Regions from separate parts of the Homo sapiens genome. Here regions 1, 3 and 4 are each linked to region 2. Evidence: fine-mapped expression QTL. A gene starts in region 2. Each other region holds a variant in brackets. All regions are shown on one strand. Distances are from middle to middle. Region 1 overlaps FGD3 (FYVE, RhoGEF and PH domain containing 3). Region 2 holds the start of CARD19 (caspase recruitment domain family member 19). Region 3 overlaps CENPP (centromere protein P). Region 4 overlaps WNK2 (WNK lysine deficient protein kinase 2).

What was found. PIP is the estimated chance that this variant, and not a neighbour inherited with it, causes the effect.
Region 1: its variant is the best candidate, but not a certain one, in a credible set for the expression of CARD19 in whole blood (TOPMed, PIP 0.67).
Region 3: its variant is the best candidate, but not a certain one, in a credible set for the expression of CARD19 in hippocampus (GTEx, PIP 0.57).
Region 4: its variant is the best candidate, but not a certain one, in a credible set for the expression of CARD19 in whole blood (INTERVAL, PIP 0.73).

The regions. Positions count from the first base shown.
Region 1 is chr9:93,032,870-93,038,056 of GRCh38, forward strand. It overlaps FGD3 (FYVE, RhoGEF and PH domain containing 3), which reads left to right. Exons shown (of 18, transcript NM_001083536.2): 16 at 1-4; 17 at 1,672-1,812; 18 at 2,469-3,364. The coding sequence ends at 2,720. Among named protein-coding and RNA genes, the nearest start is that of SUSD3, 23 kb to the right of the region's middle. RefSeq lists enhancers at 2,098-2,891, 3,718-4,611. The variant G/A (reference allele first, on the strand shown) is at 1,946.
Region 2 is chr9:93,093,458-93,098,649 of GRCh38, forward strand. It overlaps CARD19 (caspase recruitment domain family member 19), which reads left to right and starts at 2,760. Exons shown (of 6, transcript NM_032310.5): 1 at 2,760-2,895. The coding sequence starts at 2,889. LOC101927993 (a long non-coding RNA gene) reads right to left here and starts at 2,053. Exons shown (of 4, transcript NR_188444.1): 1 at 1,911-2,053; 2 at 1,114-1,557. RefSeq lists enhancers at 1,748-1,797, 4,991-5,060 and silencers at 1,908-2,217, 2,238-2,987, 3,008-3,117.
Region 3 is chr9:92,418,133-92,423,132 of GRCh38, forward strand. All of the region lies in intron 5 of CENPP (centromere protein P), which reads left to right. The region is part of intron 1 of OMD (osteomodulin); the gene reads right to left. Among named protein-coding and RNA genes, the nearest start is that of OMD, 3.8 kb to the right of the region's middle. The variant A/ATCCG (reference allele first, on the strand shown) is at 2,693.
Region 4 is chr9:93,313,613-93,318,804 of GRCh38, forward strand. It overlaps WNK2 (WNK lysine deficient protein kinase 2), which reads left to right. Exons shown (of 30, transcript NM_006648.4): 29 at 3,908-4,019. Among named protein-coding and RNA genes, the nearest start is that of WNK2, 130 kb to the left of the region's middle. The variant G/A (reference allele first, on the strand shown) is at 2,211.

The DNA of each region.
Region 1 (5,187 bases), 61 kb before region 2:
AGAGGTGGGTGCTCCCAGCTCCTGCTCCCCTCCTGGTGGCGCGGCAGAGCCTCCAGACACCTGCTCCTGTGCCCCAGCAGCTCCAGCTGCCTCTGCTTTCGGAGTGTCCCTGGGACCAGGATAGATGTGGGTGTGTCTCAGTGGGGCCCCCAGGCTGGGAACACACTCGGAAGATCCCGTGTGTGCACGCTGGCTTCTCGGGACCAGCCAGGGCCAAGGCTTGGGAACCATTTGCATCCAGGAGTTAGATGGGAACAAGTGTCACTCCTGGTCACCTGGTTGGAGGGCATGGATTGAAGCTGCCCTCAAGTCCAGGCCTTGAGGCCCACCTGAGGGGAGATACTGCCCTTCTCTCTGCCTGCCTCACCTCCAGCTGTCAGAGGGTGAGCAGGGCCCTGGAGGCAGGCACCCCCTCCTCCTCCTCCCCGTCCCCTTCTCCTCCTCCTCCCCGTCCCCTTCTCCTCCTCCTCCCCGTCCCCTTCTCCTCTTCCTCTCCCTCCTTCCTCTCCCTCCGCCTCGCTGTCTTTCTCCTTCTCCTCTCCCTCCTCCTCCTGCTCCTTCTCCTCCCCGTACCCTTTTTCTACTCTTCCCTCTCCTTCTCCTCCTCCTTTCTCTCCCTCCTCCTCCCCCTCCCCTTCTCCTCCTCTCTTTCTCTTCCTCTTTTCCTCCTCCACTCCTCTTTCTGAGAGTAGCTGCTGCTTTCCCTGACTTCCTTCCTCAAGAATACAGTCTATTCTGGGGGGTTGCAGGACAGCTGAAAAAGAAAACGTGAGTTTCCAGAAAAGCACATCGCCCTTTCTCTCCACTCGACACAGCCTGCGGTTTGCAGTGCCAGCTGCACGTTGGAGTCTCCTGGGAAGCTTCTAGTGTTGATCTCCCTCCTAGAGGCTCAGTGAGGTGATCGGGGGGTCAGTGTGTTTTCAGAGTCCCAGCTGCTCTGACTTACAGCTGTGGTTGGAGCCCTGACCTAGGTCCTTGGTCTAAGAAGTCAAGGATGTAAGTCTATTAGGACTGAGTGTTGAATGGTCTTGATGGTGAAGAAGGACCTTGCACTGCCTACCGAGCTCCCTCATGCCTGCAATTTAAATACCGAGGTGTGTTCTGAGAGCCCCAGGTCCTTGGGGCACGGGCCTCCAGGGCCCTGTAAGGTGGACTCTGGCCTCGAAGGGGGGCCCAGGTCTGAGGGGTCCAGCTCTGGCAGGGGGTGTCTAAGCCACGTCCAAATGGTGGACAGTAGCTCCAACAGTGACATGACAGAGGGAGGGCCTGTGTGTGTGGTGTGTGTGTGTGTGCTGTGTGTGCACGCACGTGCATGTATATGGTGTGTGTAGAACTGACACGCTTGAAGTCCCTGTCCCGTGACCCACCCTCAGGTACTTGCTGTTGGGTTTTCCTATGATTTTGATGTGTCCTGACCCAGCATATGGATGCCCTCCCCTTGGAGGGCCCAGCCTGCAAACCCCATCTGATACCACACATGCCTATGTCCTGCAGGCTTCTAGTGACCCTTGCAAGCCGGGTGAGGCTGGTCCCAGTCTCTGTGCAGATCTTGGCCATGTCTCCACAGCCAGCTCCCCCCAAGCAGTGGCCCTGGCCCTACCCCAGCCTCCTCAGAACAGGGGTGACCACTGCAGGGGAGACTGCCCCTAACCTGTGTCTTTGTGTCCCCAGAAGACACCCACTGCAGACCCCCAGCCCAGCCTGCTCTGCGGCCCCCTGCGGCTGTCAGAGAGCGGTGAGACCTGGAGCGAGGTGTGGGCCGCCATCCCCATGTCAGATCCCCAGGTGCTGCACCTGCAGGGAGGCAGCCAGGTACGTGTCCCCACCCCACCAGGCCCTCAGGCCAGCAGCCCAGAGCCTCAGGCCTGAGGCACCCACAGCAGGCCTGTGCCACCAGCTGGGGTCCACCTGCTTGAGCAGTGTTACCTGGGGCCTCAGTTTCCCC[G/A]GCAGCGCAGGATTCCCTCTGCTTGCCAGTCACAGGAGACAGAACCTACTGGCACCTGGGTGGACCCCAGAGCCAGCCAGGGTGCAAGGAGGGGTGGGCCAAGGGGGCACAAAGGGTGGCCAGGAGCCACAGAACCTGTCAGGGGAGACTCAGGAACCCACACAGCCCTGGCCCGGCCCCTTGGAGCCCCAGTTGCTACTCTGTCACAGGGGCTGGCCTGTCCTGCCTCGCCTCCCCAGGGGCCAGACAGCCCAAAGAAGGCCATGGAGTCTGGGGGTCTGGTGAGGTGGGCAAGGCATCCCCCTCCCTATATCTCCCTCGGGAAGAACCAGTGGATGCCCCCACCGACCGTCCTCCTGTTGACAAAAGGCAGTGCAGGCACAGCCACCAGACCCCTCGGGCTCAGCACCTGCCTTGCGTTGCAAGGGTCTGGGAGTGGCCTCCTGGGAGAGGCCCCCATCACTGAGGTGAGCCCGAGGCCGGGAAGCTGTGGCCCCGCTGACCATCTGCTCCTCTGCTGCAGGACGGCCGGCTGCCCCGCACCATCCCTCTCCCCAGCTGCAAACTGAGTGTGCCGGACCCTGAGGAGAGGCTGGACTCGGGGCATGTGTGGAAGCTGCAGTGGGCCAAGCAGTCCTGGTACCTGAGCGCCTCCTCCGCAGAGCTGCAGCAGCAGTGGCTGGAAACCCTAAGCACTGCTGCCCATGGGGACACGGCCCAGGACAGCCCGGGGGCCCTGCAGCTTCAGGTCCCTATGGGCGCAGCTGCTCCGTGAGCTGAGTCTCCCACTGCCCTGCACACCACCACATTGGACCTGTGCTGTCCTGGGAGGTGGTGTTGGAGGCCCCATGAAGAGCGCCCTGGACTGCTGAGGGTGGGCCAACAGCCCAGAGCTCAGGACACTTGGCTTTGGGGGGAAGGAAACTGAGGCCCAGAGAGGGGCAACCACTGGCCAAGGGTCACCCAGCAAGTTTTGGCTAAGAGCCTGGCCTCCAGCCCCAGCAGTGTGGCCCAGAGCAGGGGCCGACTGCCAAAGTAACCATCATCCATATGGGCCGTGTGGTGATGCTGGCCCGGAAGGCAGAAAGAGGCAGCATGGGCACTGCCAGGGACAGCCACATCCTGCTGGTCTGCAGCGTGGTCCACCCCGCCTCTGCCCAGCCTGTCTACACCGTGTGAGCTGAATCGTGACTTGCTTCCCACCTCCTTTCTCTGTCCTCTCCTGAGGTTCTGCCTGCAGCCCCCAGGAGGTGGGCCTGCCCCATCCTAGCTGGACTCATGGTTCCTAAATAACCACGCTCAGAAGCTCTGCTAGGACTTACCCCAGCCACTGAGTGGCAGGCGCATGAGATTTGTGGCTGTTCCTGATGCTAGTGGCACACAGTGCTTATCTGCATAAATAAACACTGGCCACCAGCAGTGGGCGCAGCCTCGGTGATCTCTCCCCAGCCCCTCAGCAGCGTCCCCCCACAAGGTGGGCTGGCTGATAAAGGGTTGAGGGACAAGGGTGATGGAATCACATCGGCCACACACCACCTGGAAAGCAGTTCTGCATCTGTTGTCCTGCCAGGGGGTGGGCAGGTGGCAGGTGAAGATGGCCAGGCTCAGAGATGGGGAGGGTGGGGTGCAGGGCACTCAAGATGGTGCCAGTGGGGACCTTGCAAAGGCTACTTGGGGTGGGGGTGCTGTTTGCATCAGAGCCCTGAGGGCCTCTGGGAGAGAGTGGGGGAATTTAGGGACCAGTGATTGGGGGTGCTCACTGGTCAGGACCCCCGCCCCTCTAATATCCATATAGCACCATGTGGAGACACCTGGGAAGACAAGCAGGGCACCTACCTGGGGGACTGAGAGGGCAGGAGGAAGAGCCAGAAATGGGAGACTGGTCACAGGTGATGGGGGGGACAGGTGAGATGAGAACACAGGTGAGGCGGAGACAGCTGAGATGGGGGCACAGGTGAGGGCACAGGTGAGCTCCCACGAGCTCTAGCTGGGCCACGCTTGGGATGCTGCTGCAGCCACTGCACACGGAGCCCCTGCTGGCTACCTGGGCCTCTGCCACAGCTTCCCATGCTATGCTGGATGTTCTGGTCCCACTTCACACTAAGGAAACTGAGGCTCAGGGATGCTAAACAACCTGCATACTTCCACATTGGACAGTGCCCACCAGGGGGAGATGGAATCAGACCCTTTCAGCTGCACAGCAGCGTCTCAATCGGCTCCAGCTGCTGCCCAAGGAAGCAGCAAAGCCCCTCACCCAGCTCAGGCTGGAGCAGGGACGGGGTGGAGGAGGCCTCGAGGGGACCCCAGCCCGTTGGCCCTGCCTTCTCCCCTGCAGAGCTGAGCTCTGACTCACATTCATCCCCTACAGAGCAGTGCCGGAGCCGCTCCCTCACACACGTCTACTAAGCATCGGCTGCAGCCCTAATGAGGCCCTTCTTTGAAGGGTCAGGACTCCGTCCTCTGCCTGCTTCAGTAGTTCTATTTCTGCCATCTCACCACAACCCCAGGAAATCCCCACTTGACAGCTGAGGAAACTGAGTCATAGAGAGGCCACCCCCAGAGCCCCACAGCTCCGGAACCGAGCAGGCACCTGGAATTGGCCTGCCGGCCATGGTGAATCCAGCAGGGCAGGTGTCTGCTGGGGCCAAAGACTGTGCTGTGGGGTCGCCATGGAGAGTCCCCTAGCCTCGAGCCCTCTCTCTTGCACCCACCAACCTGGCTAGTCCGCTGGGAGGCAGAGACAAGGTCTGTCACCGCAGGCCTGGGGGCAGGGCGTGCCCCCAGACTCTGCCGCCTGCTGCGAGGCCAGTGCTGATGGGAGCTTGTTTGCTGTCATACTGGTGGCTGTAGTCTGTTCCCACTTTTTCCAAAAGAGGAAGCTGAGGCTCAGACAGGGGCAGTGAGAGGCCTCCAGCATGCAGAGCCTGCGTGCTGTGCCCTTACAGAGCTGGCCTTCCTAGGGTCTGTTCCCAGAGACCCCTCCTGCGGGACACCCCAGCAAGGATGCTGCTGGGGAGCTGGCTGCCTGGGCCTGGCCTCTCGCCACACACTGCCCCGCCCCCAGCTCCAGCCCTCCCATCCCACAGCCCAGGGCCTGGGCACACTCCACTGCCCGTCCATGGAGTGGCAGAGCCTGGACACATGCTGGCTGGTCGCATGCTGGCTTTTGGCCTCTTTACCATCCTCCCTCCCCTTTCTCCCCAAGGCCACCCCCCTCCAGAGGCATAGGAGACCACCCCCTG
Region 2 (5,192 bases):
AAGTGTCCTTGCTGTATTTGGAATTGAGCCCAGTTCTCTGCTGATGTCTCTCTTCCCCTATCACAAGAGTCCCGAATAAAAATCTGTTTCTACATCTGTAACCACAGTCCAGCTCTGGTTTTTCTTTGACAGTGTCCAAGGGCGGGGCTTCCTGTCACACCTCACTTCACTCCTTCTAAGGGGCCCCTCCACCTTCCCAAGAACTCACTTTCCATTTGGGGTCCAGGCAGCCACAGCTGGCAAGAGCTAGCCCGGAGGGAGGATGCGTGTGCTATGCCTGGGGGAGGGGGAATGCCCAGGATCTGCCATTTGACCATGGGGTGCCCGTGCCTGCTTGCAGCCCCCGTGGTGGGCATCCAGGCTGTACACCCCTGGCTGCACCAGCAGCTGTCCTGCTTTCTGCCGCGGCCTTCCATCTCATAGGGTTGGAGGGCACATCCCAGAGGGCACAGGGCTTTCAGTCCCTGCATGCAGGCTTGGGTTCCTTTAAGTAAATCCTTTTCAAACCCTCAGGTGGCTGAGGAACAGCGACCTGTACTTGGGAGGCCACATCTGGCTGCTAGATTTTGGGCAAGGGGCTTCATGCTCCAAACCTCAGTTTCCCTGTTCATCACATGGCCAGGGGCAGTCCTGAGGGCGCAGAAGTGGATGTGAAGGTGGGATGCTACCTTTCCCAAAAGGGGCTGGGGTCAAGGTTCCCTGAAGGTGGGCAGTGCCTGGAGCCCCTGCAGTCCCCACTGTGTCCCCCTTCCACTCCGTCGCCACCCTTATGGCTCTGACATCACTCAGGGGCAGGAGTGTGTGCAAAATAAACCCAGAGAAGTAAGTACTACACGTCATAACAGTGTGATGGATGCAGAAGAATTGGGGTCAGGCTGCATCCCACTGGGGCAAAAGAGGCCCTCTGGGGAAGCCCCCTCTGGGTCCTCCAGGGGAGCACCTGGAGGCCAGAGCCAGCCTGGACTCACCCAGGCACACAAGCAGATGAGAGGCCTGCAGGGACCCACAGGCTGGTCCACTACCCTCCTGCCCTGGGACGGCCCTGTACATGGGCCTGGGGCAGGCTGGGTCTGATGGCAGCCTGGCCTCCTGGGGAGCATGGACGGGGCTCACCTTCAGTGTTTGGGGACAGGGGTGGCTGCTGTATAGTGACCATGACTGGGCCCCAAGAATTTTGAGGTTTCCAGGTGACAACTGCACCCATTCTCCTGATGCCCCCTATGCCGGCCCTGATGGGAGGTCATGGCACAGGGGAGAACTGAGGCAAAGAGACAGATGGCGCATGGACTGCAGGGACCACTGTGCTGTCCGAGAAGGGGACACTGAGTTGGGCCCCCATTCCGGGTCAGGCTCTGGCATCTCAAATTAGAGCTGCTATGGGGGAACGGCCCACACAGGCAGGGAAGGAAAGAGGAAGGGAAACTGCTGCTGCTGGCTGGGAGAGTGCTGCTATTCCTTCCTTCACGGGTCTCCACTTCCTGGCTGGGGCCCAGTGCATTCACATCATGTGGGGCTAGGAGCTTCTTGTGGCGGGCTCCGGAGCTGGAAATGCCAGGCCTACGAGAGGGAAAGCAGGAAGGAAAGCGGGAGGGAAGTGGAGTTGGCCCAAGGTCACTCATTTTACAGTCCAGGAAACTGAGGCTCAGGCAGGTTAAGTGACCTCTCTAGTTCGGGTCACACTGTCAAGCTAGTGTCTTCTTTTGAAGGTGGGGGACTGGGGTCCCCCAAGAAGGTGTCCCCCCCCCACCCCGCCGAGCGAGGTCACACCGTTGAGTCCTTCTCCCCTGGATTTGGGAAAGCATCACTGGGCACTGCCTCCTTTGGCTGGTCCCTGTGGCGTACTGGACGCCCACCGGCCTTTTGCCCCAGGCCTGGCCCTGTACTCCCCAGGGCCTGACTTTCTGTATGACGTTGGATCAGTCACGTCCCCTCTCAGTTTCAGTTTTCTCATCCAAGGGGTGGGGCGCGAGGCCGGGAGCGGGGAGGTGGACTGAGCCGGCCGGCGGGCCACCTGGATCCCGACTCCGCCACTCAACGCGGCAGGGCCCGGAAGGGCGGGCCCAAGACGGGCAGGGCTCCGGGCAGGAGCGGGCGCCTCCAGGGAGGCGCGCGGCGGTCGTAGCTGAGGCCGCCTTGAGGGCGGGACTTGGACGCGGGCAGGGCTCGAGTGAGAGGCGGGGTTAAAGGCCGCTGCGACGGCGTTATAGACGCCGGCGGGACCGGGGCCCAGCGAGGGGAGGGACTCTGGGCCCCTCGCGGCGTCTTAACTGACGCTGGGAGGGGCGGGAGTCCGGTGGCGCCCGCCCACGCCCGCAGTCGCCCGCCCACGCCCGCAGTCGCATGGCAGAGCAGGAAGGGGCGGGGCTCAGGGCCCCTGGAGGCGCGGAGGCCGACGACGGAGGGGGGCGGGGCTCGAGTAAGGGGCGGGGCCCGGTGGGGGGTTCCTTGAGGCTCGGAAGCCGTCGTCGGAGGGGGCGGGGTTCAGGTGCAGGGCGGGGCTCAGAACTCCGGGAGAGGCGGAAGCCGACGCCGGAGGGGGCGGGGCTCGAGTGAGGGGCAAGGCTCCAGGATCCTCGCAGCGGCCTATCCCAGGACGGCAAGGGGGCGGGACTCGAGTGAGAGGGGCGGAGTTTAGAGCCCTGGGGGAGCCGTAGCGGGCGCGGAAGGGGCGGGGCCTAACGGTAGGGGGCGGGGCTCGTCAAAGGGCGGGGTTTAGAGTCCCCGAGGCTACACAGCCAAAGCCGGGGGGCTGGCCTAGCCAAAAGGGGCGGGCGAGCACGGCCCGCGGGCGGCGTTCGCTGGAGCTGGTGGACCGGGCGGCTGACCGAGGGGCGGACGCGCGGCGGGGCAGACCGCTGGGGACTGCGGGCGGCGCTGTGTCCGTCGCCATGACAGGTGGGCACGGGGTCGGCTGGGCGGCAGGGATGCGGGCGCCCTGGATGGGTGGCCCGGCCCGGGGGTCCGGCTGCCTTGCGAGTCGCCTGCAGGCCGCGCCTGGGCAGCGGGGGCCGAGTGACCTTGGCCCGTCAGCTGTCGGTGGTGCGCGAGTGCACCCCCGCGAAGTGGTGGGTGTCCCGGGGCTTCTACCCGGCGGGGCCGTGCCAGCCGAGGCGGTGCCGGGCATGATGGGTGGTGGCCAGGTGCGGGGCCCGAAGAGGGCGGGGGCTACAAGGCAGCTCCAGGGTGGGGCTGCACAGCCGCGGTCTGGGCTCAGCCACTGCCAATGTGTGTGTGTCCCGTGGTGGGGAATTTGGTCTGAAAGAGTAGGAGGTGGTAGAAATGACACCGGAGAGAATTCACAGCGGTCCTGCTGTGATTCTGGCCACGGAAACAACGCTCCATCCTTACAACCACCCCAGCGAGGTCGCGGGACAGGCGATGCGTTCCTCGGCGGCATGTGATTCCTGTGGGACTCTTGGAGTCTCCCAGACTCCTTCGGTGGTCCACGACGCTCTTGCCCCTGTTTAGTTCTAAGAGAATCGGGGACAGCGACTGGACCCCCCAAGGTTGTTGTGCTCCACGCTAGTGGCCCCAGCCCAGCCTTCCTCCCCAGGGCCTCTCTGGTCTGGGGACCTGCCCACCATCCTCCTGATCCCAAACAGGGTGACTCTGCCCTGTGGACCTTCCCCTGTTGGAGAAGCCCCATGAGGGTGATGGGCTGGTAAGGGACCCCATGGCAGCCCGGCCAGGGAGTATGGGGGTTCCCAGAAGCTACACTTCATTCTTACTGTTCTGTTTCATGGAGCAGAATTGGCTCAGGGGCTCAGGGTAGCCCCAGAAGTCCCTAGTCCTCTCTCGGTGCTCGCTCTCTTGAGTCTCAGCCTAGGTCCTGCCCACAAATAGGATCTCATGGGCTGGAAACTGATGACTTCCAGGACACCAGGCCAGAAGAGACTTCCAGCCTAGGCCACAAGAGACCCCAGCTGCCACCTGCTCCCCTTTGTCCTCCCTTCTAACTCTTCTTATTTGTGGCTCTCATTTCTGAGCACTTACTGTGCATTGGACCCTGTGTTGGGTGATTCCTGTTTGAAAATGATCAGATGGGGACACCTGGAATATCTCGTCTGTGTACAGATGGGGAAACAAAGTCTTAAATTGTGCCCTGCCCAGGCTGGGATTCCGTAATTCCCTTAGTGAGTTCATCAGAATGCGTGGGACACAACTCAGAGCTGTGTTGGTCTCCAGGGAGCCCTGTCCCAGGGACTGGGTGTTGGCAGAGCCTGAGGCCTTGCTGTCCATTAAGGAGCCTTCCTGCACAAAGGGACTTTGTCCCTTTCTGCCTGTCAGGGAAGCTTCCTTGCATAAGGGGACCCTGGAGCTGGGAAACCACATCAGGCAGGGGTCCCTGAAGGCTCTGACTATAGGCCTCACCTTGTCCAGTGTATGCTTCCTACCTGCTATGTCTACTCACTGGGCCTGGAGACATTCCCTCACAACCCTTAGTTTTTGGGATGGGGAACCAAGGCCCATGGAGCACAGCTCTGGGAGGGTCATATGGACAGCCCTGCGAGGCTGCAGACCCATAGTCCCAGGCTCACTGCCTCCATGCACCAACTGGGGTCCTGCCTTGCGCCAGCCCTCGCTGTGAGCAGCGCATGTGAGCCAGTGCCTGCAGAACGCTGAGGAGGTGTCTGCGTGGGGCAGGTGCTTGACAAGTTACCCCCTGGGCTGTGCCGGGGAGTGAGCAGTTTTAGTTGGGCTGAGCACTGAGAGAAGGGGTTTCCTGGAAGAAATTCGGGAGAGGAGGTTGATGCCCAAGTGTCTGGACTCCAGTTGGTTGGGGATGACAGGAACTCAGGAAGGCCTTTTGCACGTAGAACAGCAAGGTGAACATGAATTAACCAGGTGGAAACCAAGGAACAGGTATTCTCAGCCTGGGCTGAGATGTCTTGTGGGCCTAGAGGGCCCGGTGAGAGTGGGTGGGGCCAGCTCCCACGGGGCCTTGAATGCCAGGCTGAGGGCATCAGTCTGGGCTGATAAGAAGGTTCATATTGGGGTGTTTGAATGGGGGTCCATAGTCCTGGTGCCAGCCTGGCAAGAAGGAAGGGGATGTAGGGCGTGGTGAAGGCTTGCCAGGTCTGTGCCAGAGCGAGCCATCTTCCTTTGTCCTGTAAAAACAGTTCAGGGACTTGTTTATCGGGAGCTGGCACTGAGATGGTTTCCCTTCTTGTGCCTTTTCTGGCTTCCAAGTG
Region 3 (5,000 bases), 680 kb before region 2:
GTGGAGTGTAGTGGTGCAGGCTTGGCTCACTGCAGCCTCCACCTCCCCGGTTCAAGTGATTCTCCTGCCTCAGCCTCCCAAGTATCTGGGACTACAGGCGCGTGCCACCACGCTTGGCTAATTTTTGTATTGTTAGTAGAGACGGGGTTTCTCCATCTTGGCCAGGCTGGTCTCTAACTCCTGACCTCAGGTGATCCACCCACCTCAGCCTCTCAAAGTGCTGGGATTACAGGCGTGAGCCACTGCGCCTGGCCGAGATTTTTTTTTTTTTTAAGTCACATATTACACTGAACTTGAGTCAAAAGTCTGGTATACTAGACTTTCTACTAAGTAACCATCTTTTAAGAGTCCCAGTTTCTCTTGCTTACTAGGGTATAGATCTATGATAATAGCATGACATCAGTCAACTACAGTCTGATCCCTCCACTGTAAATGCTGTGTGTTCTTTGGAATTACCTGATCCTTTAATGATGGTCACTGCCTGGGGGAGGAAAGACCTTTATTTTAGTTAGAGAGCTTTTGCCTGGGAGATTCTACAACTTCTATTTGCTGATACCTTTTTCTGCCCTTCAGAAGAACGTGAAATGCTCCCTTTTGTGTGATAACTTCAGATATTTAGAAATAGTATTCATGTTTCCTTTTAATATTTTCTGTCCAAAACTAACAGCACCATCAAATTTTCCTCATGAAACAGTTTCCAGAATCCAATTATTTAGTCTCCGACTCTGCTTGAATAACTACTTTAAATCCTAAAGACATACAGTGTTTACATTCTACAAAGTTCAAGTGTCTTTACATTTTTCTTCCTAGCTTCCTTTTTTCCATTAATATATTTAAGTTTTAGATACAAAAATATTATTAAAAACACACTGTCCTTGTCTCCCAGGTGTTTAAAGTCTTGTGGAGAATCAAATACACGTGCAGTAGAATGCAGGAGGAGGATATTGTGTGGAAAAGAATTGCAAAAGGGCACACTTCACAATGAACACTCAGTGCTGAAACTTGAAGTTCTAGGGAAGGGTCAATTATGTCCCAGATGAGAAGCCTGAAACCTATATTTCATTTCTGTCACTTAACATATCTGCCTCTTGCCTCATCAATAAAATAAGAATTGCAATTATAGCTGAATTATACCTTGGCTGCTTATCTTGTATGTTGCCTTGTGTCTTTTTTTTTTTTTTTTTTTGAGATGGAGTCTTGCTCTGTTGCCCAGACTGGAGTGCAGTGGTGCGATCTCGGCTCACTGCAGCCACCACCTCCTGGGTTTAAGCAATTCTCCTGCCTCAGCCTCCCCAGTAGCTGGGATTACAGGTGCACTCCACCACACCCGGCTAATTTTTGTATTTTTAGTAGAGATGGAGTTTCACCATGTTGACCAGGCTGCTCTCGAACTCCTGACCTCATGATCCACCCACCTTGGGCTCCCAAAGTGCTGGGATTACGGGCGTGAGCCACTGCATCCAGCCTCCTTGTGTCATATCTTGCCTGCTTATCCGCCTGGTCGTTGTTAGCATTGTATGAGCTATGCATGTACAAGTACTTTGCACGTTGAAAACTGCTATCCAGATGAAATGAATGTATCATTTAGGAAAAAGGTTTTAAAAAATCCTACCTCTTTTATTCTGAGACCTTTCTACTTTTCCCACCCAGGGTTTCATGAGAGAATGAGTTTCCAAACAAATCATTGCATATAATGAAATGACTTATCTCCTGTTCATGTAGAATGGTTCTAGCTATTTTTCATCATTGGTATAATTGAGAGAATAGTTACTTAAGTTATTTTCTTTGACAGAACCCCATTTGAGAAAGGTTAAGAAACATCTCAATTTCTTCTTCTTTTCTTGTCAGAAATTATAAATGTAACTATTGTGTGTATTTGGAATTTGAAGTAGTTATTCAGGTAGAGTCAGAGACCCTTGAGCTCTCTTCCTGCAGTGATACTTTCCTTCATTCTTCCTCACCATTTGCTCCCATGCACCCGCATCCTGGGTTTTGTCTTTTCTATTACTGGAACCCTTCATACTCTTCATTTTGAGTATTCCGCACTCAGACCACTATCTCTATGTAGTAACTCCAGCTGCAATAATTCTCCAATTTCCGTGGAACCTCAGCTATATTGATTCTACTGTTTTTCACTGTCCCTCATCCATACCTCCCAACATTGTCAGTTCCTTCTTACCAACTTAGACCCCATAGTTGATCACTATCGTTGCTCTTTTGCACATGCCCTAAACTTTCTGGCTCCTTCAATCTGCCAAACTCCAACTCTGGTTACTCCAATTCTCTACCTACTCACAGCCTGACTGTCACAGCTGAATGTAACTAAAGAAAAACAGGAGCATGGTGACTGGTCTCACTCTCGATTCAAGACCACTAACCTCAAGTGCTGTCCTGCTGCATTTCCTTAGACCATCCTCCTTCCCTCTCTTCTACGCTACTGTTTTGTAACTTTCCTCTCTGAAGCCTCTAATACCTTATTCCCCATTATTGTTTTTGGGTGATGACCTTGCTTCTTTTTTTTAAGTCAAGAAAATAGGATCAAGATATCATTTATTTCTATTTTCTTATATGTATCCCTACCTACAAGAAAATGCCAAAATAGCAATGGTTTGGGTTTTGTTTTTGTTTTTTTTTTAACAATATGTGCTTTTGAAATTCATGATGTTTCTTTGTGCAACTCTATATTACATCC[A/ATCCG]TTTTTCTTTCTTTTCTGTGAGATTCGTGGAAGATGTGGCATTTGACCTAGACTTTGAAGGAGTGTTGAGGTTCTCATAGAGGGAAGTGAGGAAGAAGATCTCTGGCTAGAAGAGATGAGCAAAAACATAGAAGCAACAGATGGTGATGTGTTTGGGAAATGTGGTTGGTTAACTCTTGAAGGAGCAAAATAAGACTATTAAATCCAGATCTGAAGGGATTAGCCTAACTTTTTTTTTCTGAGACAGTCTCACTCTGTCACCCAGGCTGGAGCGCAGTGGTGCACTCTTGGCTCACCCTCCATCTCCTGGGCTCAAGTGACTCTCTTACTTCAGCCTCCTGAGTAGCTGGGATTACAGATGCGTGCCACCACACCTGGCTAATTTTTTAATTTTTTGTAAAGACAGGGTTTTGCCATGTTGCTCAGGCTGGTCATGAACTTCTGGGCTCAACCAGTCTGCCCCCCTCAGCCTCCCAAAGTGCTGGGATTACAGGCATGAGCCACCACCCCCGGCCTTGGAGGGCCTAAATTCTGACCTGAGGAATTTGCACTCTGGGAATGAATGCCTAATTTAATGAATTAACATATTTGGGCTGTGATTTCACACTACAGTCAGTGTTCGTGGGTGAAAAAGTAGAGAATCTTGGAAGGAGGTAGATTTAAGGAGTTATGGTATCATACCAAAGGGCAGTGTTCAGAGCAGGCTCTCCTTGCTGGGCTGGAAGCTCCCAGTGGGTCTGCTTGGAAATGCTTATTCACCTAGTGTACTCTACTACTTTACTGTATGTAAACATGCTTAGTGAAGCACTTTACAAATATTAGTAGTTAGTTTGATTGGGTTACATCAGTTTACCGTTGTCCTGAATTATTTCTAGTGATGAGGCACTATGCTAAGTTGGTGGAGAATACAGAAATGAAGAAGACGTGAAGCCATAGTCCCTTCTGTAAAGAGCAAACAGCTTAGTGGAGGAGAGAGATACAACAAAGTGAACCCTAATCTAAGGCAGAGGGTAATATCCTTTATAGCAGAGATAGGCAATGCTGTGGGGCCAGTGGCTTACCTCAGCCTTACGGAGACAGGAAAGTCTTTTGTAGACATCATTTGACCCAGACTTTGGGAGATTAATAGGAATGGATATAGAATATTCTATACATTTTATACTCATTGATGATATTTTATGTATAATTTTATAATATTTTATTGTACTTATTATAGTATAACATATTAACTTTTTTTTTTTTGGAGACAAGAGTCTCGTGCTGTCACCCAGGCTGGAGTGCAGTGGCACAATCTCGGCTCACTGCAACCTCCGCCTCCCAGGCTCAAGTGATTCTTGTGCCTCAGCCTCCTGAGTAGCTGGGATTACAGGCGTGCACCACCACGACTGGCTACATTTTTTTGTATTTTTAGTTAAGACGGGATTTTGCCATGTTGGCCAGCCTGGTCTCGAACTCCTGACCTCAGGTGATCCGCCCACCTCAGCCTCCCAAAGTGCTGAGATTACAGGTGTGAGCCACCTGCCTGGCTGAAAACTCAGCTTGAATTTTATCCCTTTGTTGAGAACATTAGCTAATCATCAGTTATCAACCTTACATTTGAGAATTAGAGTCTGTTGTTCAACAACTATGAAAAATTGTTGGGAAAAAAGAAGAAGGCCTTGAATCAAGACATGACTGGGGCGTCTCTGAAAATAAAGAGGTTTTTAATATTGTCTGCTTTCCGCCTTTGTGAGCACCTAAGAAGAAAGTCTTTCCTTGAGGAACAATTTCTCTTCTAAACCTGAACTTATCTTAAACATCCTTGTCCTCCTCCCTCCACGTTCCTAACCATGTAGTACAATCTTGTCCCACTCCCTTTGATTAAGTGCAGTTTTCTGTTTTGAAATCCATCCTGTTTTCATCTATATGCTCATTATTTTCTATGCCTCTTGCTCTTTCCCCAGGATAATTTCCCCTGTTACAACAATCTCTTATTTTATCCAAATTTTTCATTCCCCAACTAATCTCTTCTGAGTCATTTGCTAAGCATATTTTTGTTACTTCTGCTTTTCATACTCTACAATGTATGCCTTGTTCTCTATAGGATAACTCACAGCAATATTGTATAATTCATTGTTGATCATCTCATTTCCTAATATCTTTTAACAGAATCTAATACAATGCAGTGTTATAAGTGCTCAAAGGTGTGTTGAATGAATAAGTTAATAAGTTATAGGTTAAGGCTTGCTAGCAAATGCTTCTCTCTACTAATGTTGATTATTCCTAGGCATTTATTTCACTATGATAATTTCTTCAAATGAACATATTC
Region 4 (5,192 bases), 220 kb after region 2:
GTTTAATTTGCCTTAGAGCAAATTAAACAATTTTCATATTCTTATATTTTCATATTCTTATCAGCCGTCTTTTAAAAAGTGCCTGGTCAAGGATAGTGACCATTTAAAAGTTGATTTGTTTAACTTTTTATTATTGATTTGTGGGAGTTCATCATATATCTTTTGTCATATACAAGGGGGCTTCCAAAAGTTCACAGAAAAATGGAATTAAAAGATAAAAGTAAGAAATATATGGCTGGCCATGGTAGCTCACACCTGTAATCCCAGCACTTAGGGAGGCTGAGGCAGGTGGATTGATTGAGTCCAGGAGTTCAAGACCAGCCTTTGCAATATGGCAAAACCTCATCTCTACAAAAAATATAAAAATTAGCTGGGCTGCTGGGTGCAGTGGCTCACGCTTGTAATCCCAGCACTTTGGGAGGCTGAGGCGGGTGGATCACCTGAGGTCAGGAGTTCAAGACTAGCCTGGCCAACATGGTGAAACCCTGTCTCTACTAAAAGTACAAAAAAAAAAAAAAAATTAGCCCAGCATGGTGGTGGGCTTCTGTAATCCCAGCTACTCAGGAGGCTGAGGCAGGAGAATCGCTTGAACCTGGGAGGCAGAGGTTGCAGTGAGCCGAGATTGTGCCATTGCACTCCAGCCTGGGCGACAAGAGCAAAAGTCCGTCTCAAATAAAAATAAAAAAACAGCTGGGCATGGTGGTGCATACCTATAGTTACAGCTACTAAGGAGGCTGAGGTGAGAGGATCGCTTGAGCCCAGGAGGTCAAGGCTGCAGTGAGCCGAGATAGTGCCACTGCACTCCAGCCTGGCGACAGAGCAAGACCCTGTCTGAAAAAAAAAAAACAGCTGGGCATGGTGGCACATACCTATAGTTACAGCTACTAAAGAAGAAATACACGCTTTTTTCTTAACACAAGCACCATCAAGTTCAAGACACTTATAAGCAATGATGCCAGCCATTTATAAGCAATGATGCCAGCCATTTATAAGCAATGATGCCAGCCATTTAGTCCCTCCCTAAAGACCTAATGGTCCTGGGAATTTAACCATGGCCATGGAGTCTTTTTTACATTATTAATTGACAAAAAATGGGTGCCCTTTACAGATGTTTCAAAATTAGGAAGCAAAAAGAAGTCAGAGGGAGCCAAATCAGGACTGTAGGGTAGATGCCTGATGATTTCCCATGGAAACTCTTGCAAAATCACCCTTCTTTGGTGAGAGGAACGAGCAGGAGCATTGTCGTGATGGAGATGGACTCTCTGGGGAGGCTTTCCCGGGGGGGGTTTTGCTGAAGCTTTGGCTAACATTCCCTAAACATTCTCATACTAAGCAGATGTTACATTCCTTGTTACCCCTCCAGAAAGTCAGCAAGCAGAATGCCTTAAGCATCCCAAAAGCTGTTGCCACAATGTGCTCTTGACTGGCCCACTTTTGCTCTGATGGGACCACTTCCAGCCCTCAGCACCATTGCCTTGACTGCACTTGGTCTTCAGGACCATACCAGGAAAGCCACGTTTCATGTCGCTATAGTTCAAAGAGAGCTTCAGGATCTCCATCCCACTTGTTCAAAGTTACCACTGACAGCTCTGCTCTTCTCTGCGCCTGATGTGGGCGCAATGGGTTTGGCACCCATTGAGTGGAAAGTCTGCTCAACTTTCATTTTTCTGTCAGAATTGTGTAAGCTCAACCTACTGAGCTGTCTGTGGTGTTGGCCACTATTTCTGCTGTTAACCACCCGTCCTCTGCACTTACGGCTCAGACCAGATGAGTGTTTTCCTCACAAAGTGATGCGGATGGCCTGCCGCTGTGGGCTCCGTCTTCAGCATGGTCTCATCCCTTCTTAAAACAAGTCAACCATTTGTAAACTGCTATTTTCTTTGGGGACATGGACCCTGTAAACTTTTCAGAAAGCATCAGTGATCTCACCATTCTTCCACCCAAGCTTCACCATACATGTGATGTTGGTTCTTGCTTGGCAGAATTCACGTTATTGTGATAGGGGCTCTTTTCAAACTGAAGTCTTCTCCTTCTTAGTGCCTCAGACTACCTCCTCTTCAGACATGCTGCAATAAGTTAGTACAAGTTTATTTGGGTACAAAGATTTTTTTTGAAAGTCATGCATAGTTTTTTCATGGTATGTCTTTTCCATGAACTTTTTGAAGACCCCTTGTGTGTGTGTGTGTGTGTGTGTGTGTGTGTGTGTGTGT[G/A]TATATAATGGATATAGTCTACCAATCTGTGGTTTGTGTTTTCACTTTCTTAATGGTGAACATGAAATGGTAAAAATTTTAATTTTTTTTTTCCTAAAAGCTTTGCAGCTTTAGCTATTGCTTTAGATCCCATGAGCCATCTCAAATGAACTCTTGAGTATATTTTGATGCAGAGGTAAATCTGTTTTTTTCCTCTCTGCATATCTGATCGTTCCAGCCCCTTCCTCTCCATATTGAATTGCACTGAATTGAGCAGACATTCGTCAAGTGGTCGTCTGTGTGTAGGTCCATTTCTGAATTTGCTATTTTGTTTGCTTTAGCAATTCCCTTATCATTGTGGCAACACCACACTCTCTTCATGACTGAAGTTTTCTAGGAAGTTTAATCTTTGCTCAGGAAAGACTTTCAGTGTTGATCTTCTTCAAGAAGTTCTTGATTTTTTTCAGGTCGTTAATATTTCCATATGTTTTAGGAACAGCCTGTCACTTTCTGCAGGCTAGCCCACTGGGATTTCGGCTGGGAGTGGATTCAGTCTGTTGATTATCTGGGTGAGGTTTGACATATGAACAACATGAGCGTTCCTGTGAATGTAGTGTCCGTTTACTGGCATCTTTTTTGTTTCTCTGCAGTGTAAAGATGTTATACCTCTTTCATTAAATTTATCCCTAGGTAGCTGATGTTTTGGAATGCTATTATAAATGTTATTTTTCTTTAAATCTCCTTTTCCAGCTTCCTGTTGCTAGAATATAAAACTATGGTTGACTTTCGTACCCCATATCCTGCAATTGTGCTAAATTTGCTATTAGTTCTAGAAATTGGTTTGTCCATTCTTGTGGGTTTTCTGCATACACAGTCTTGTCATCTGCATGAGGCCAGTTCTCCTTCTCTCTGTCCAGTCTGTGCGGTTGACTCCTTTTCCTCCCCGCCTGGAGATCCCCGTGGTGTCGACTGGAAGCATGGAGGCACCTTGGGGAGGTATTGGGCATTTTGTCGTGGGCAGGGGCTCAGCTGTCGGTTCCATAGAGGACCTTCCAGATAAGGAGGCCCCTCCAGCCCCTGACTGCCGAGCTTGATTTCCAGGAAGGGTTGTGGAAGTCACCGAGTGCCCTCCATGCACCTGTGAAGAGTGCCCAGTGGGGCCCTCCCTGGAGTGGAGAGGAGTGACTCCCCGTGGCCAGCAGCCTTGCCTTCCTGGGGCACACCCCGCATACAGCTTCTCCCCGGGCTGGGACAGTGGAAGGGCTGCCTTGCCATCACCTCCCTGCACACTTGCTTTGCCCAGGTCCTGGGGCTCTGCTCCTGCCAGCTCCTGGGTGGTTCATGCTCCTGTGAGGGCACTGACCAGCCAAGCAGGAGGGCTTTGTGGTGGCTGAGTAGAGGCATGTGGGGTCACTCATGCGCCCTCAGGGTCCAGGCCCCACTAGTCCTCCTCCAAGTCCCATTTTGGCTGGTGGACACCCAGGTGTGTGGCCTAGAGGCTATCAGGCTGCAGCTTGGGGAAGCAAACAAGGGAGGGTGATGGTTCCTGGCCCCACACCATCATTCTGGTGTCAGCCCTGAGAGGGTGCCTGTCACAGCAGGTTCCAGGACTGCTGCCTCCTGAGGATGGAGAAACTGTGGCACCCTGGGGGCCACTAAGGGAGGCCAGCTGATTGCAGCCACGTGTACCTTCCTCTTCTCGTCTCTGTGTTTTGTAGATGACCGCACCTCGAGCAGGAGTGGGGATGCCACGTCTGCCCCCAGCGCCCGGCCCTCTGTCCACCACGGTCATTCCCGGAGCCGCCCCGACCCTGTCCGTGCCCACACCAGGTACTGCCCTCTCCAACCTCCCAACCCCACCCTGTGCGCTGCCTCTGGGTCAGTACAGAGGCCTGCTCCCAGCTCCAGTGTCCTGGGGGCCCTGGGCAGGCCAGGTGGGCCAGCTGGGGGCACAGGGCAGCTGGAACACCCCCCAGGTGCCCGTGCTGCCAGTCTTCTTGCAGCCACCTGTGGTCAGCATGCCTGGCCCCCGGCTGCGGATCACGTAGCCTTCTGCCCTGTCCCTTGCCAGATGGCGCCCTCGGAACCGCCCGGAGAAACCAGGTGTGGTTTGGCCTCCGAGTCCCCCCCACCGCCTGCTGTGGGCACAGCACTCAGCCGCGAGGGGGACAGCGGGTGGGCAGCAAGACTGCTTCCTTTGCGGCTTCAGACCCTGTTCGCTCCTAGGTTCCTGTGGTCCACGCGCCGTCTCCACACCCACTTCCTATACTTGAGTTGATGGTTAGAACCTTGTCGTCACCCTGCAGAAGTACAGTGCCTTGAATGCCAGCTTTTCCGTTCCCTGATGAAAAGATATGTTAAAAAAAATTATCGGAAAAGGTTTCATTTGCAATTGGCTTGTGCATTGATAATCTTTATTTACTGTTTTAAGTTGCAGAGATGTGAATGGTTTACAAATCTGAAGCTGAAGTTCAATCTTTGGTTTTCTGTTGTAAATGCCTTTTACAAACATTGAATTAGCTACCTTAAGTATTGAAGAGCTTCCATTGCTAGGTGAGCCCTGCTTTGTCCTCAGTAGAGTGCCGGTTCCCTGGGCTCATCCAGGGGCTGAGAGACGGCGGGACGCTGGGGCAGGGCACACTGGCGGAGCTGCTTGCTCAGTAGGGAATGTCAGTTGTTGCGCTGGGCCATGAGAAATCCGCCAGAAAACGTTAGGTGAGCAGACATGCCCCCCATGCCAGTGGGCTGCTGTGAGTGAGGATAAGGTGTGTGTTGGGCATAGAAACCCTGGCTGCCCGCCCACCCTGTGGAGACAAGTGCAGCTCCTCCAGCTGGAGAGGCTGCCCTCTCTCCTGCCCACTTCCCTCCCTTCTCCATGATTTCCATGGAGACCTGTGGCTCTGCTCACCCCTGGCATGCAGACCGCTCTCCCGTCCAGCCCTAAGCCTGCTCTGCGGAGGGCGGGGTCATTCTTCTCCTGGAGATTTCAGTGGGACTCGTCCC